Linked DNA regions of Homo sapiens. The protein of the gene in region 2 purifies or fractionates together with the protein of the main gene of each other region. This does not show direct contact. Each region holds a gene or a part of one and is shown on either strand. Other genes may lie near its edges.

Region 1 (2,331 bases), on a different chromosome or scaffold from region 2:
GCAGAATACAACTGAGGACTGCTGCCCACAGCCACTGCACCCCTGACACCCAGAGCCACCACCCGCCCACCTCCCTCCCATAGGGCTGGGACAGAACACCAACTCATCCAGTGGTCTAATGGCTGTGGACCCCAGGGGAAACCACAGGTGCCCAGTGCAGCCAGGGCTGGTGGGGAACAGAAGGCCTGCGCCCAGGCCCCACCCGGACCACTGCTGACACCATCGCTTTGGGAAGAGCTACCTCGGAGCAACTCCTGCTCCAGCCTGTCTGCCGCCTTTTCCTCCTTTTTCCGTCGGACTTTATCTAGTCGCCGCTTCTGGAACCTGGGGAAGAAAGCACATGTCACTCAGATTCCTAAATTCTCTTTCCACCCAGGGAGGAGGCAGAGGCCGCCCCACCCACAAGGGATCCCCTGTGGCAGAGCAGGGACCCAAGAACAGGTGGCTGCCTCCAAGTCCCCGCTCCCCTTACCACCCCAAAACCCACAGCTGCCCACCAAAGAAGGCTCTGACCCCAACAGGCCCCTCACAGGTCCCCCAGTGGTTCTCAGCTGGGGACAGCTACCTGCCAGGGAACATCTGACAATGTGTGCAGACACGTGGGCAAGGGCTACTGGCACCTTGTGCACGAAGGCTGGGAAGGCTGCCAAAGACCACCCAACAGAGACTCATCCAGCCCATCCGGTGCTGCTGTGTCTAAAGGGCCTAACAAGCATTGTATATCACGTCTCCCTCAATGTGAATCTGGAAGCTTCACCTTCAGCGACAGCTCTGGAGATCACCGTGGCGCCAGGCTGTATCTGGGCCACGTTCTCTGTGATGAACTTTCACTGGCTAAGGTAACTATAAGTAATACAACAATCCAGAAACAGGGAATCTACAGAGCTGAAAGCAACCTCTCAAACCTTCAAAGCTTTTTTTTTTTTTTCTTTTTTTTGAGATGGAGTCTCGCTCTGTCACCAGGCTGGAGTGCAGCGGCACGATCTCAGCTCACTGCAACCTCTGCCTCCCGGATTCAAGCGATTCCACTGCCTCAGGCTCCCAAGTATCTGGAATTACAGGCATGCACCACCACGCCCGGCTAATTTTTTTTTTTGTATTTTATTAGAGACAAGGTTTCACCGTGTTGGCTAGGATGGTCTCGATCTCCTGACCTCGTGATCCACCTGCCTCAGCCTCCCAAAGTGCTGGGATTACAGGCGTGAGCCACTGTACTCGGCCAAAGCTTTTAGAGAATTAGGAAGGTGTAGTCTCTTGGACGAGAGACATTCTGTTCTAATGGAAACAGAACCCCTGGGCACGTCACCCTCAGACCGACCCCCTCAGGGCTGATTCCCACAGGGCTAGGGCTTTCTGGTGCTTTTCCTGTGAAAGCAAGGACCAAGCGAGGTCTCCGCAGAGTTCCCAGGTTCCGCAGCCTCCTGGAGGCCACACCCTCACTGGCTCCCAGCTGGATGCTCCGACTCGCCAACTCCCAGGGCTCTGGCTTGGTCTCCCTGAATCCAGGCTGCCCCATGGCTATGAAACAGGGTACCTGCAGAGGGCCGTCATGGGAACCCAATGTCTTCCCTCCGGCTCCCAGGGCAGACCCCTCCCCCTCCCGCCTCCACTCACGCTTTTTTTGCTTTTTTCTGCTCAGACTTCTCCTTGGGAGCTGCCTGCACCTCTGGCTGCCGGATGGCCTGGTTCTTGCTGAGGAACAGCACATGCTGGGCCTCTTGCTGCATGCGGTGGATATAGGCCCCGTCAGACTCCCCCTTCCTCTGTTTGAACTTGGGGACTGCGATGTCGGGCTCCTCTCCCTTTGCTTCCTTCTCCAATGTCTTTCTGAAGGTCACCTGGGCTGAGGACAAAGGGAGGCCTCAGAGGAGGCAGGAGGCAGACAGTGGCAGGCAGGTGACCCATGCTCATTTCCCCTCCCAAAGCCACAGGAAGGGAAGACCAGGCTGGCTGGAAGCACCCCAACGACAGCAGCTGAAGAGGATGTAGAATGCCCGGCCCGGCATCCCCGGGGACGTGACCCCCCAGCCCAATGGCACCTGTCACAGATGTCCACTGCAGCACAGCTGAAAAAGGAAAGCAGAAACAACCTAATGTCCACCCCTAGGTGGCTGGTTGAATGAATTCTCCTCTGATCACCCACAGACTCCATTGCACAGCTGCCGAAAGAAGCCCAGTGGAGCTACACAGAGAAACGTGGGCAGACCTGCCGGGCGCGGTGGCTCATGCCTGTAATCCCAGCACTTTGGGAGGCCAAGATGGGCAGATCACAAGGTCAGGAGATTCAGACCATCCTGGCTAACACGGTGAAACCCTGTCTCTACTAAAAAC
Region 2 (4,693 bases):
AATATTGCATTGTGATTCCTTTGTGCATTTGGCTGCTGTTTTCTCAAGCCATGTTTATCTTTGTATTCCCGGAGCTTGTCATTTGAGATATAGCCAGTGTACTTATTCACCTAGGGAGAGATAAGGAATGACAGGGTCCAGTTGAGTGGGATAGATGAGAACAGGGGTGTTATAGAAACCCAGGTACTAGGGCACAAGATGAGGGCACTGTTGACTAGTCATGATGGAAGAAGTAGGCAGACAGGAGAACTTCATTAGGTAGAATTGGTGGGATGTTGAGGTTGGTAAGAGAGGAATCTGAAGTAAGTTCCAGGTTGCTCAACTGTGGGTAGGCTGGTGATGCCATTCAAAGTGTTGGATTTTAGGAAGTGGGACATGCGTGAAATCTGTGCTGGGGGTCTGGGAATCAGCAGCCTAGAGGTGGTAATTAAAGTCAGAATAGATGAGATATTCAGGGTAAGATAATGAGAAGAGAAAATGGCTCAGAATAGAACTGAGGAGCATGTCATGGATGGGTAAAGGAAAATGAAGCAGTGAAGGTGATGGAAGAGGAGAAGGTTCACCCAGAGATGTAGGAGTAAAACCAGGAGAGTTAATTTTTTTTTTTTTTTTTTTTTAAGACAGAGTCTTGCTCTGTGGCCCAGGCTGGAATGCGGTGGCGTGATCTCAGGTCACTGAAACCTCTGCCTGCTGGTTCAAGCACTTCTCCTGCCTCAGACTCCCGAGTAGCTGGGAATACAGGCACATGCCACCACGCCCAGCTAATTTTTGTATTTTTAGTAGTGACGGGGTTTCACCATGTTGGCCAGGCTGGTCTCGAACTCCTGACCTCGAGTGATCGGCCTGCCTCGGCCTCCCAAAGTGCTGGGATTACAGGCATGAGCCACTGTGCCCAGCCAGTGTTTTTTTTTTTTTTTTTTTTATGGGAGGATGGGCAGGTTGTTAGCTGTCGAGTGCTATTGAGATGAGAGAGAACTCAGAATGCAGTGGGGTAAGGATTGCTGAGTAATGTGGAGGGCCTGTTTGAGGTAAATGGCAGTGGTAAGAGGTTGCTCCATTATGAAAGCCCTCTTCCAGAGTTCCTGATAGGGCCCCAGAAGTTCATTTCTGATTGCTTTGATTTTTTTTCAGGGGAGCAGGAAGCCAGTTTATCATTTGAGAGTGAGAATAGGGGAGAGGAAATATCTTCCAGGCCCACAGTGCATAGAAATACCCAGTCAGGGCAAAATGATTTATCTGTTTACCTCTCCTCATCACTTGGGCCCAGAGCAATCAGCAGTGATTAGGTAGAGAGGAGCCGAGCAGAGGGAAGAGCATACCAATCACTCCTCCCTTTCCCAGTGCAGGCTCCTAGACTTAGCTGGGGCAGAGCTGGGAGAGGAAAAAGGGATTTAAAACTGCAACAGGTGCAGATTATTGTTACACAGGATTAGACATTCTAATTAATTGAGATTATGTTTGTTCCTTAAACTGATCACAGGACTATCTATTAAGAACATCACAACCTCGCTGCAGCTTTTCTCCATAGCAGGGAGAGTACCTCCCAGTGAATAAAATTTGGAGGGTGGTAAGAGACAAGAATAAAATTGGGTTTGGTTATCCGTGCCTCATGCTTGTTCAGCATCCCTTTGAGAGTTCTCCAAATAAATAGTTACTGCTTCTGCAGTTATTGGTGTGCTCCAGCTTCTGTTCCCATAATATAGTCCAGTCCTAAGGGAACACAGTTCTAAAAGAAACAACATGATCTTGGCAGAGACACCGCTCAGCTCCAAACCCAACCATTTATGTAACTGCACAAAACTCTCTACAGCTTTTCACAGAGACCAGTAATTAGAACCTTTCATCCCCTGGTCATCCTCCTTCCCAGGTGAATTCTCTGACCAGCCATCTGGTTTTAGGATACCCAACTCCTGCAGTAACTGCCTTACTGGTGGTCTAATTGCTTCTACTCGTGTCCCTAAAGCAATTAATTTTCCACACAGCCATGTGATCTTTTTAAAATGTAAATCAGCTTATGTCACTTCTCTGCTTAAAATCCTTCAATGGATTCTCACTGCCTCGAGAACAAAAGACAAACTTTTCAGGCCCCGTGTGATCTTGCCCAGGCCTCCGTCACCATCACCATCTGCATCTTAACCCACTCCTCCCCTTTCACAAAACTCCAGCCACACAGACTTGCTTTTTATTCCTCAAGCTTTCCAAACTGTTTCTACTGAGAGTCTTTGCACATGCTCCATCTTCCTTGAATACTCTTTCCCCAGTGAGCTCATTTTCATCTTCCTGAATTCATACCACTATTACCTTTGCTTCTGTGGAAGAAACTGGCCAGATGCTCACCCAAATGTCCTCTTTCTGGACACAGGTAAACTGCATTTCCCAGCTCCATGCATCTAGGCCTATGTGAGTAGTTCTCAACAGTGGAAAATGAGTGGAAGTGATGTTTCAATACTAGACCAAGGCAGTTAAAGGGTGGCTGAGCCATTTCCATTATTCTCTTCCTCCTTCCTCTTCAAGGTAACCTTGAAGCACATGTTTTGACGGTGATGGAGTCATAGCATAGAAGAAGTCTGAATACCTGAGTTACTATTTAGGGCATAATAGCTACTTGACCAAAAACATCCATATTGGACTTTGAACAAGAAAATAAACTTGATTACATTCTGCTAGTGAGTTTTGAGGGTGTTTTAGCAGTTATCATTATATACACTGGATATATCTTCTATGGTATCCTGTCCACCTTACTCTTGACCACAGTACCCTCTTTGTTTCCTTCAGGGTGTTTCAGATATTTAATTATCTTGCCAGATGCCAGTCAACACTTTCTTTTTGTCCCATGAGTTTAAAATCAGGGGAAAACATGTACTCCCAATAGGAAGTTGAGATACTCTTTTTTTTTTAAATCCGTCATTGTGACTGTGACCGGAAAAACAAATCCCACTAAAGAATGTCCTAAACAGATGTTTTTTTTTGTCATATAACCTGGAGTTAGGTGATTTGGCATTGGTTCTGGAGCTGAAGGATGTTAGGGATGAGGTCTCTGTAGTTTTCTTGTCTCATGGTCACGAAATGAAGTGTTATTGATTAAGCAGGGATGCCCTACTTAGTATTAGACTTCTTGGAAGTCTCCTTAATTGCCACAGCCCCTATCTTTTTGGCTTCGTTTCAAGGGTCCTTCTACATTGTTAATACTCTGGTATAAATACGTTCCATTATTCCCTATAACATGACTGAAACCAATCTAAAGTATTAACATTTTAAATATGTTTTTGGGCCAAGTGCAGTGGCTCTTATCTGTGATCCCAGCTACTAGGAAGGCTGAGGTGGGAGGATTGCTTGAGCCCAGGAATTTCAGGCTGTAGTGAGCTATGATTGTGCCACTGTACTCCGGCCTGGATAACTGAGATCCTGTCTCAATAAATAAATAAAACAATTATATATATGTATAATATATAATATTATATATACATATGTATGTATGATGCTTTTCATCCCCACCCTTTCCCACATCTCAGGAACCTGTCAGCAACTTATCCAGTTTAAAGCTGCTGTTCCTCTACCTCAGTGGTTTGGGAGAACATGGTCATTATTTCACTCATTCTTTACTTCCTGTCTCTTCTAGGATTGGAATGGGGGAGGGCATATTAAACGAAGAAAGTCTCAGCTTACGTGATTAAGGTACCATTGGTGTGTTCTGTGCAGACAGGCATTTAACTGTTGACTCCTTTGTGAGCTCTTGGGGTTCTCTGGAGCTCTCCATGAGGACTGGGGCACTAACTGACTTTGGTTGCCTCTTTTTGATGCACAGCCCACACTGCCCTTCAGCTCTTCAGCCCCTGACCCTGACAATGTACCCACAGCCTCCTCGTGCTAAAGTGCTTCACCCTTGTACGCAGCTCTCCTGGGAATGGTCCCAACAAACCCTCAAGACTGGTTACCTTTCATGGAACCCACAGGAAATGCATGCATATTTGTCCTGCCAAACTGGAAGTGCAGCCCAGCCAGCAGCTTGCTTTTCTCACCCTGCCTTGTCGCAGCCAGCCTGACTCTTACTTATACATCTGAGAAGTGCCAGTCTCTATAATTCACATGGCTCCAAATCCTCATAAGTGGTTCAGGTTATGTTCTCCCAAGAATCCTCCATGCCACATTCCACCCTGGTGGCCAGATGGAGATGGGTCTGTACATTTCTGAGCTTACCAAGTCTCTATCTAGAGAATATAATGCTGAATGAATGTAATGCCTCTCCCTCACATGGGAACACTAAATATCTACAAATGGTTCTATTGGAGCCCTCCTCACTCAGTTTAGAATGAAGGGAGTGCACTACTCCTTTGTCTTGCAGGGAGAAGTTATCCCTATTCCTAAAGATTCCCATCAATGAATCTTTTATTTCTAATCTCACATATAATAGAAAGTGTAGTGGTCTGTGGATCAGCTTTACTATCTTAGAATAAACTTCATGTGGATATATCTAGTACCTTTATTTGGAATGTGTTGGTTCCTATCACCTCTTGTCCTCAGTTTCGGTATGTTATCCAAAGATCTTAGATAACTGAAAAACTCTAATTTAACTTTCTCTTTTATGCAGATATTCTTATTATATGTGGTTTCCTTTTTTGTGTGTGCTTTATTTCTGTGGAGTATTGCCTACAAATCTTGTCTTCTTTTTAAAATCACTCAACTGTGTTTTTAA
Region 3 (4,064 bases), on a different chromosome or scaffold from region 2:
TGCTCCCCGCAGACATTTATTGAGATGATAAATGGCCACACCCAATTGCTCAGACCAAAATCCTAGGAGCCTCACTTCCCTGTTACTCCATCAACCTCTGCCTGTTACACACGCACATCAAATCTACCCACTCCCGGCCGGGCACGGTGGCTCACACCTGTAATCCCAGCGCTTTGGGAGGCCGAGGCGGATGGATCACTGGAGGTCAGGAGTTCAAGACAGCCTGGCCAACGTGGCGAAACCCCAGGTCTACTAAAAATACAAAAATTGGCAGAGAGTGGTGGCGTGCACCTATAGTCCCAGCTACTCAGGAGGCTGAGGCAGGAGAATCGCTTGAACCCAGGCGGCAGAAGTAAGGGAGGAGACCACCCCTCATATTGTCTTATGCCCAATTTCTGCTTCCAAATAAAGAAGTAAAAACTAAAAGGCAGAAATAAAATCCACAGGCAGACAGCCCGGCGCCGCGCCCTGGGCCTGGTTAAAGATCAATCCTTGACCTAACCGGTTATGTTATCTATAGATTTCAGACATTGTATGGAAAAGCATTGTGAAAATCCCTGTCCTGTTCTGTTGCGTTCTGATTACCGGTGCATGCAGCCCCCAGTCACGTACCCCCTGCTTGCTCAATCGATCACGACCCTCTCACACAGACCCCCTTAGGGTTGTAAGCCCTTAAAAGGGACAGGAATTGCTCACTCAGAGAGCTCGGTTTTTGGAGACGTGAGTCTGCCGATGCTCCCCACTAAATAAAGCCCTTTCCTTCTACAATTCGGTGTCTGAGGGGTTCTTGTCTGCGGCTCGTCCTGCTACAGAGTGAACTGGCAGGAACTCCTCCCGGTGCCTGGGCCTCAGTTTCCCCACTGTACGTGGAAGATGAGCCGCTGTGAGGCTGAGCAAGGAGCAGCCCAAGGCGGGAAAGGCTCGAGAGTCCAGGACGCAGGCGAGCGACCTAGCCCGGCTCTCACTAGCCCCACCGCCCAGTGCCCCCAGCTCAGCTGCCCTACCAGGTGCTACACACACAGCGGCCCCCCAGTTCCCTTCCGGCGTTCGCATCTCTCATCCCCATCCCGGATCTTGGGGAGGTCCTCGGCTTGCCCCAGTCAAACTCGAGGTCGATGACCCCGGATGCCGCTGGCTAAGGCGGCGGCCCAAGTCCCGTGCGGGTGAACCGCCCAGGCTGCGCGGAACCAGAGGCAGGGATCCGGTTTCCAGCCGGTTGTGGAGAGACGAGCGCTTCCGGGGACTGGAGCGTGCGTGCTGAGGTATGCGCAACGCGTGCGGGGTCTCTTCCGGAGTCTTTTCCTGGACGGGGTCCCTGCGGTGGGTGTGTTTCGGCCTGGCCTGGGCAGGCGCTTGTGCTGCCAGGGCGCCGGGCCCGGGGAGGCCGGGGTCTCGGGTGGCCGCCGGCCCAGGCGCTGGACGGCAGCAGGATGGGGAAGGCGAAGGTCCCCGCCTCCAAGCGCGCCCCGAGCAGCCCCGTGGCTAAGCCGGGTCCTGTCAAGACGCTCACTCGGAAGAAAAACAAGAAGAAAAAAAGGTTTTGGAAAAGCAAGGCGCGGGAAGTAAGCAAGAAGCCAGCAAGCGGCCCCGGTGCTGTGGTGCGACCTCCAAAGGCACCAGAAGACTTTTCTCAAAACTGGAAGGCGCTGCAAGAGGTGAGGCTTGAGGGGGCCCGGGCGGAGCGCTGCGCAGCTCATTCCCGCAGAACGCGACGGAGGGAAAGACTTGGGTAGCCCCAAAAGACCTGTAAAGGCAGATTTGAATCGAAATCTTGTAAACAGCTTTTCACAAGAAAGGTGGCCTGTTGAGGGAGGTCTCGAACTTGTTTGCTTGAAAGAAATTGATGAAAGAATTATTTCAAGTACAAAAAAGCAAAGATAAACCCTTGTACCTTTTGCATAATGAACTAACTAGAATGGATTTTACAAAGAGAAATTTAGCTTAAAATCCCGAAACCAGGCCGGGCGCGGGGCCTCACGCCTGTGATCCCAGCACTTTGGGAGGCCGAGGCGGGCAGATCCCCTGAGGTCAAGAGTTCAAGACCAGCCCGGCCAACATGGTGAAACCCCGTGTCTACTAAAAAAGTACAAAAAATATTAGCCGGGCGTGATGGCGCGCGCCGGTAGTCGCAGCTACTCGGGGAGCCTGAGGCAGAAGAATCGCTTGAACCCGGGAGGCAGAGGCAGTAGTAAGCCGAAATCGCGCCACTGCACTCCAGCCTGGGCGACAGAGCGAGACTCCATCTCAAACAACAACAACGAAAGAACACACTGGTCTGTGTAGCAAGACAGGGAGAAAGAAGATTCCTGTGTAGAAGTGAAAAGCAGATAGCAGACATGTGATGGGGTTCTAGCGACACTTACGGTCTTGAAGTAAATACTAATTGAGCTCCTAAAAATGTGCACTCTGCCATGTGCTCTATGCCATGCGTGTTGCAATCCCCACAATAAGACTGTGAGGTGGACACTTCCATCATCGCTATTGTACAGATGAGGAAATAGGCTGGAAAAGTTTAAATAGATCATCTAAGATTGCGGCTGGGAACCAGGTGGCTGACTCTGGAGTCCATGCTTTTAAGGCTGTGTTGTACCTGCTGTCTCCCTAGTGACCTGCACTTCTGTAGAGGTTGCCTGCTCTCTCCTAGACACTCTTCCACGTGCGTCACTCATACATTCTTACCACATCCCTTGGAGCTCCCTTGGAGCTACCTCCTGTTAGGATCATAGCTCACTGCTGCCTGGGCTCCAGTGATTCTCCTGCCTCAGCCTCCCGAGTAGCCCACACGTGTAATCCCAGCACTTTGGGAGGCCCAGGCAGGAGGATCACTTGAGCTCAGGAGTTCAAGTCCAGCCTGGGCAACATGGTGAGATTCCATCTCTAAATAAAAGTAAAAAGTAGTTTTTTTAAAAAAGAAATGTGATCCCCAGTGGTGGAGATGGGGCCCATAGGAGGTATTGGGTCATGGGGGTAGATCCCTCATGAATGACTTGGTGCCCTCCCCTCAGTAACGAGTAAGTTCTCACTCTGCTGGTTCATTTGAGAGCTGGTTGTTTAAAAAGAGCCTAGCACCTTTTTTGCTTGCTCTCTCACCACGCAACACACCTGCTCCCCCTTCACCTTACACCATGATGGGAAGCTTCCTTCGGCCTCACCAGAAGCAGATGCTGGCACCATGCTTCTTGTACAACCTGCAAAACCATGAGCTACATAAACGTTTTTTCTTTATAAATTACCAAACACAGGTATTCCTTTATAGCAGTGCACAATGAACTAATACAGATGGGGTTTCACTTTGTTGCCCAGGCTGGTCTTCAACTCCTGACCTCAAGCAATCCTCCCACCTCAGCCTCCCCGAGCGCTTCTTGAACCTCCTAATACTCTGCACAGTATCTCAGTGCAGACATTCCTGTCTTAACACACAGGACCAGTCAAATTCCCGTGGGCAGCCCCAGGGTTCTGTGGGATTTCTTGAACACCAACTCTTCTTCCTTCTCCCAAGAAAGAAAAGCAAAATAAGTGAATGGAAGGGATGTGTGCTATAGGGAAACTTTGGAGTGTTTTCTAATTCATCCAAGAAAGTCAGCCCTTCAGTTCTTTACCTATCACAGAACAGGTAAGTAGCACCCGCCTCATCATCGCACTGTGGTGGCGCCCACTCCCACTGGGGATTTGAACACAGGGAGGAAGCTGGGCTCTAAGACTACAGGAGCCTCTGCTTGGGTGACAGCCAAGGTGTGTGGCTGCTAGCAGTTCTTCAGCCACTCCAGTTTGACAGAAGCTTTTCTTTTCATTTATGACACCCCCCACCTTCCTGAGATCTTCACAGCAGTAGCAAACCAGGGAATCTTGTAAAAAAAAAAAAAGCGATTTCTGTGTAGCAGGATGTTGGCCCAAGCTGTGAGGGAAGTTAACTCCAAAATTCTTTCTAGATAAGCTGAAAAGGGAAGTGGTCTGTGGTGTCCAGCCACTCAACAGGTACCCAAGGTGTAGAATGAGTTTGACATTTTGTATGCATGAAGGAGCAGGTGCAAAATGCATTATAATAAGATAAGCAAAGAAACAGC
Region 4 (4,203 bases), on a different chromosome or scaffold from region 2:
CAAAGAAGAGGACCAGTGTGGATAATCAGTCAGAATTAAGTCTGTATTCACTAATGAGTGTTGCCTTTTACAGATGACTTTTTGAGCATATTCCCCTCTCTTAACATTGCTGCATTAGCTCATATCTGCTAGGGGTGACACCCTCTCTCTGACCTGCCTACAACATAGACATCTCCACAGGCACAATCATCTTGTCGGGACAGAGGCTCAGCGTCAACACACGTGCTTTTTCTACTAGAAACTCTGAGACCCCAACAGGCCACAAAAGCCCACATCCTCAGATGTTCAAAACACATCTGCTTACAGAATATGAAACACAATTTTCTTAGACTAGAGGACAACCTGATGGAGAATTTCAGTAATCACCAAGTTACTTATCTAATGCGCTGGTTCATGATTTATTTGGACACATACCTAAGTATCGATGAAGTCGTATTAAAATATGTACCAGCCTGTTTTTACTTATTTTTACTTTCATTTTATTTCAGAGCATTTAATGCGGTTTACAAATCAATCACATCTTCCAAAAACACACTGTGTTGTTTTTCTCCTCAAAGCAGTTTTTCATACATTGCATCATTTTCTGTTCATAACAGTCCCAAGGACTGGATAGGGTCGGCTTTGCTGTCTCCATTTTAATGACAGGAACTTAGATGTGGAGGCCTTACGCTGTCCAGGAAGGGGTTTTACAGACGTTACTTCGTTTGGTCTTCTCCTCCCACCCTGCACGGCGCAAAGAGCCCATCAGTTTGCGGAAGTCTGGGGTGGAGGACAGTCTGGAGTGACAGGCTGCTACCAGACCAGTCGATCTGGTTCGGGCTGTGACATAAGCTAGGGGTCGAAGTCAGGGGCACCCGCACAGGCGGACCTGCCTGGCACCTAGCCAAGGCGAATCCACCTTCCCGGCCAGCCACCAGGGCCTTGAATTGGCAAAGTATCGAATCCTGTTGTGTGTGAAGCAAGCTCTTCATGCGACACCTTCAGGGCGACCTCGGGTCAAGAACTACTCATTGTGCTGCTTGGACGCGCCGGGGCCCGAGTCTTCGTGGATCGGCCAGGCCAGGAGTGAAAGGTCTGGGAGTTCTTCCGGCCAAGAGCACCCGAAGAGCCACTGGGATCAGAAATGCGCCCCGGTGGACCCCAAACCCTGCAGCCGGGGGCGGGGGGTGTCGTGGAGTGTCCGCTCGCCCCATGCCGTGACCGGGACAACCGGTACAGCAAACTCACATGGAGCCCCAAGACTCTGGATCCCCAAGACTCTGGATCCCTATCGCCCCGCCCCTTCTGCAGGCCACGCCCCTTCCGCCGGTCCCAGCCTCGCGCGGGTCGGCCCCTTCCGCCGGCCTTTCCCCGAGCCCCGCCTCTTCCGCCAGCCCCGCCTCTTCCGCCAGCCCCGCCTCTTCCTGCGCCATGTGGGCCTGAAGCGCGTGTCTGCTGTCTGTGCCAGTGCTCCTGCCGGGTCCCCTCAGGTGTGTCGTTTCCGTCGCGCTTCCGCCCTCTCGGCCATGGGGGTCCCCAAGAGGAAGGCCTCGGGCGGCCAGGACGGCGCGGCTTCCTCCGCGGGTGCAGCCAAGCGCGCCCGCAAAGAAGAGCTCACGGGCGTGCGGTTCAAGGCTCAGCTGAAGGACCCGCAGGGCCCCGGGCCAGGTGAGTCCGGGGCGGCAGGCGCAGGGTCGGGAGCACAGGCTGGCGAGGCGGCCTCCGTGTGCCGGGCACAGCCTCTCCTTTCTGCAGCTTTCGGGTCACATAGGCTCAGTGGCAAGCCTCTGGTTTGCAGAAAACTGAGGTTCAGGACTGCTGTGTACTTCCTTGCTCTGGACTGTCGGCGACAGCGAGAGGGCCCCGACTTGCTTGATTGGGACCGTTTCATGTTACAACACATTTATTTCCCTTGCCCAGGCAGCATCCCTCAGCGAGCTCTAAAACCTCTTTATTGCAGTTGTCAGGGAAGTAAATGAAGTGTCCTTCTCTATTGAGTCCTTACTGAGTCGGCTCAGGACGGTTCATGAGACAGTTTGCTACTCCTTGGGCCGTCAGCACCGTTTTCAATAGCTTCCATCCCCCAACACTCATACTGACTTGATGACTTGTAACAAGCTACTAGAAGCCACCACAGCTACTTGTCAGTTGACCAGGAATGGGCCAGTGACTGAGATGTAGCCGACTCTATAATTTAATTACACTTTTTGTAAAGTGTGACCACCCTTCGCGACTACTTGTAATCGTTTGGAAAGTAACATGGTTTGGGAAAAACGCAATTGAACGTGTTGCCATGTGGAAGCATTGCTCTAAAATAAAACAGTGGCAGTTTTTCTCCCAGGTTAAATAAACGATTAAATTAATGGCCAAAATATCTTCAACTTCCAATTTTTGTCCTCATTTTTTTTTTTAAACGACAGGGTCTTGCTCTGTTGCCCAGGCTGAAGTGCAGTGGCACTATCATAGCTCACTGCAGCCTTGAACTTCTGGGCTTAAGCTGTCCTCCCACCTCAGCCTCCCAAGTAGCTGAGATTGTAGGTGCACAACACCATGCCCAGCTATGTTTTTTTTTTTTTTTTTACTTTTTGTAGAGATGGAATCTCACTATGTTGTCCAGGCTGCCCTCGAACTCCCAGTCTCAAGCAATCTTCCCACCTTGTCTTCTCAAAGGGCTGGGAGTATAGGTATGAGCCACCACACCTGGCCTGTTTTTAAACTTTGATACCTATACCTGTACTTGCTAGTCACAGCTAGGAAGATGATACTTAGTTAGCATAGAGTTATTTATTTCCGAATTCATTAAGTATTACTAGAGGCTATTATTTGCTACGGTAGAGATAAAGTGATGAATAAAAATGTCAAAAAGCCTCTGCCATTGTGGGGTTTACAAACAGTCGAGTGGGGCAGGCAGATATTGGTCAGTAAAATCACATACATACAGTTTCAAGCACGAGTTTTCCAAAGGAGAGGTACATGGTGCCTGAGGGTGTTTAACAGACCTTGGATCTAATCTGGGAGCTCAAAGAAGGCTCCCCTGAGGAAGTGGCTTTTCTTTTCTTTTTTTTTTAATCATACTTTAAGTTTTAGGGTACATGTGCACAACGTGCCCCTTTGTTACATATGTATACATGTGCCATGTTGGTGTCCTGCACCCATTAACTCGTCATTTAACCTTAGGTATATCTCCTAATGCTGTCCCTCCCCCCTCCCCCCGACCCGACAACAGGCCCCGGTGTGTGATGTTCCCCTTCCTGTGTCCATGTGTTCTCATTGTTCAGTTCCCACCTATGAGTGAGAACATGCGGTGTTTGGTTTTTTGTCCTTGCGATAGTTTGCTGAGAATGATGGTTTCCAGCTTCATCCATGTCCCTACAAAGGACATGAACTCATCGTTTTTTATGGCTGCATAGTATTCCATGGTGTATATGTGCCACATTGTCTTAATCCAGTCTATCATTGTTGGACATTTGGGTTGGTTCCAAGTCTTTGCTATTGTGAATAGTGCCACAGTAAACGTACGTGTGCATGTGTCTTGATAGCAGTATGATTTATAATCCTTTGGGTATATACCCAGTAATGGGATGACTGGGTCAAATGGTATTTCTAGTTCTAGATCCCTGAGGAATCGCCACACTGACTTCCACAATGGTTGAACTAGTTTACAGTCCCACCAACAGTGTAAAAGTGTTCCCATTTCTCCACATCCTCTCCAGCACCTGTTGTTTCCTGACTTTTTAATGATCGCCATTCTAATTGGTGTGAGATGGTATCTCATTGTGGTTTTGATTTGCATTTCTCTGATGGATCTAATTAAACTAAAGAGCTTGTGCACAGCAAAAGAAACTACCATCAGAGTGAACAGGCGACCTACAGAATGGGAGAAAATTTTTGCAATCTACTCATCTGACAAAGGGCTAATATCCAGAATCTACAATGAACTCAAACAAATTTACAAGAAAAAAAAAAACCCCATCAAAAAGTGGGCAAAGGATATGAACAGACACTTCTCAAAAGAAGACATTTATGCAGCCAAAAGACACATGAAAAAATGCTCATCATCACTGGCCATCAGAGGAAGTGGCTTTTCAAAAGGATTGTAGGATGGGACAGGGACAGGAACCTTACTGGCAGAAGAAAGAGCACGTTTAATTGTTAAAAAGATGTAGTATCTATATTTCATGGTCTTGCACAGAGAGCCTCATGACATTCAGGTGCTACATCATT

The links. The genes of interacting proteins can lie anywhere in the genome.
Region 1: the proteins of RRP8 (region 2) and CCDC137 purify together in Homo sapiens (co-immunoprecipitation; 3 studies listed by BioGRID and IntAct, with this or other methods). This does not show direct contact.
Region 3: the proteins of RRP8 (region 2) and REXO4 purify together in Homo sapiens (co-immunoprecipitation; 3 studies listed by BioGRID and IntAct, with this or other methods). This does not show direct contact.
Region 4: the proteins of RRP8 (region 2) and URB1 purify together in Homo sapiens (co-immunoprecipitation; 3 studies listed by BioGRID and IntAct, with this or other methods). This does not show direct contact.

What each region holds. Positions count from the first base shown.
Region 1 is NC_000017.11:81,669,737-81,672,067, reverse strand, and holds part of CCDC137 (coiled-coil domain-containing protein 137), read right to left. Parts: intron 1,844-2,331; coding exon 1,615-1,843; intron 325-1,614; coding exon 242-324; intron 1-241.
Region 2 is NC_000011.10:6,593,814-6,598,506, reverse strand, and holds the end of RRP8 (ribosomal RNA-processing protein 8), read left to right. Parts: 3' UTR 1-3,435; downstream 3,436-4,693.
Region 3 is NC_000009.12:133,415,211-133,419,274, reverse strand, and holds the start of REXO4 (RNA exonuclease 4), read left to right. Parts: upstream 1-1,264; 5' UTR 1,265-1,430; coding exon 1,431-1,655; exon of another isoform or gene 1,656-3,613; intron 3,614-4,064.
Region 4 is NC_000021.9:32,390,213-32,394,415, reverse strand, and holds the start of URB1 (nucleolar pre-ribosomal-associated protein 1), read left to right. Parts: upstream 1-1,403; 5' UTR 1,404-1,505; coding exon 1,506-1,647; intron 1,648-4,203.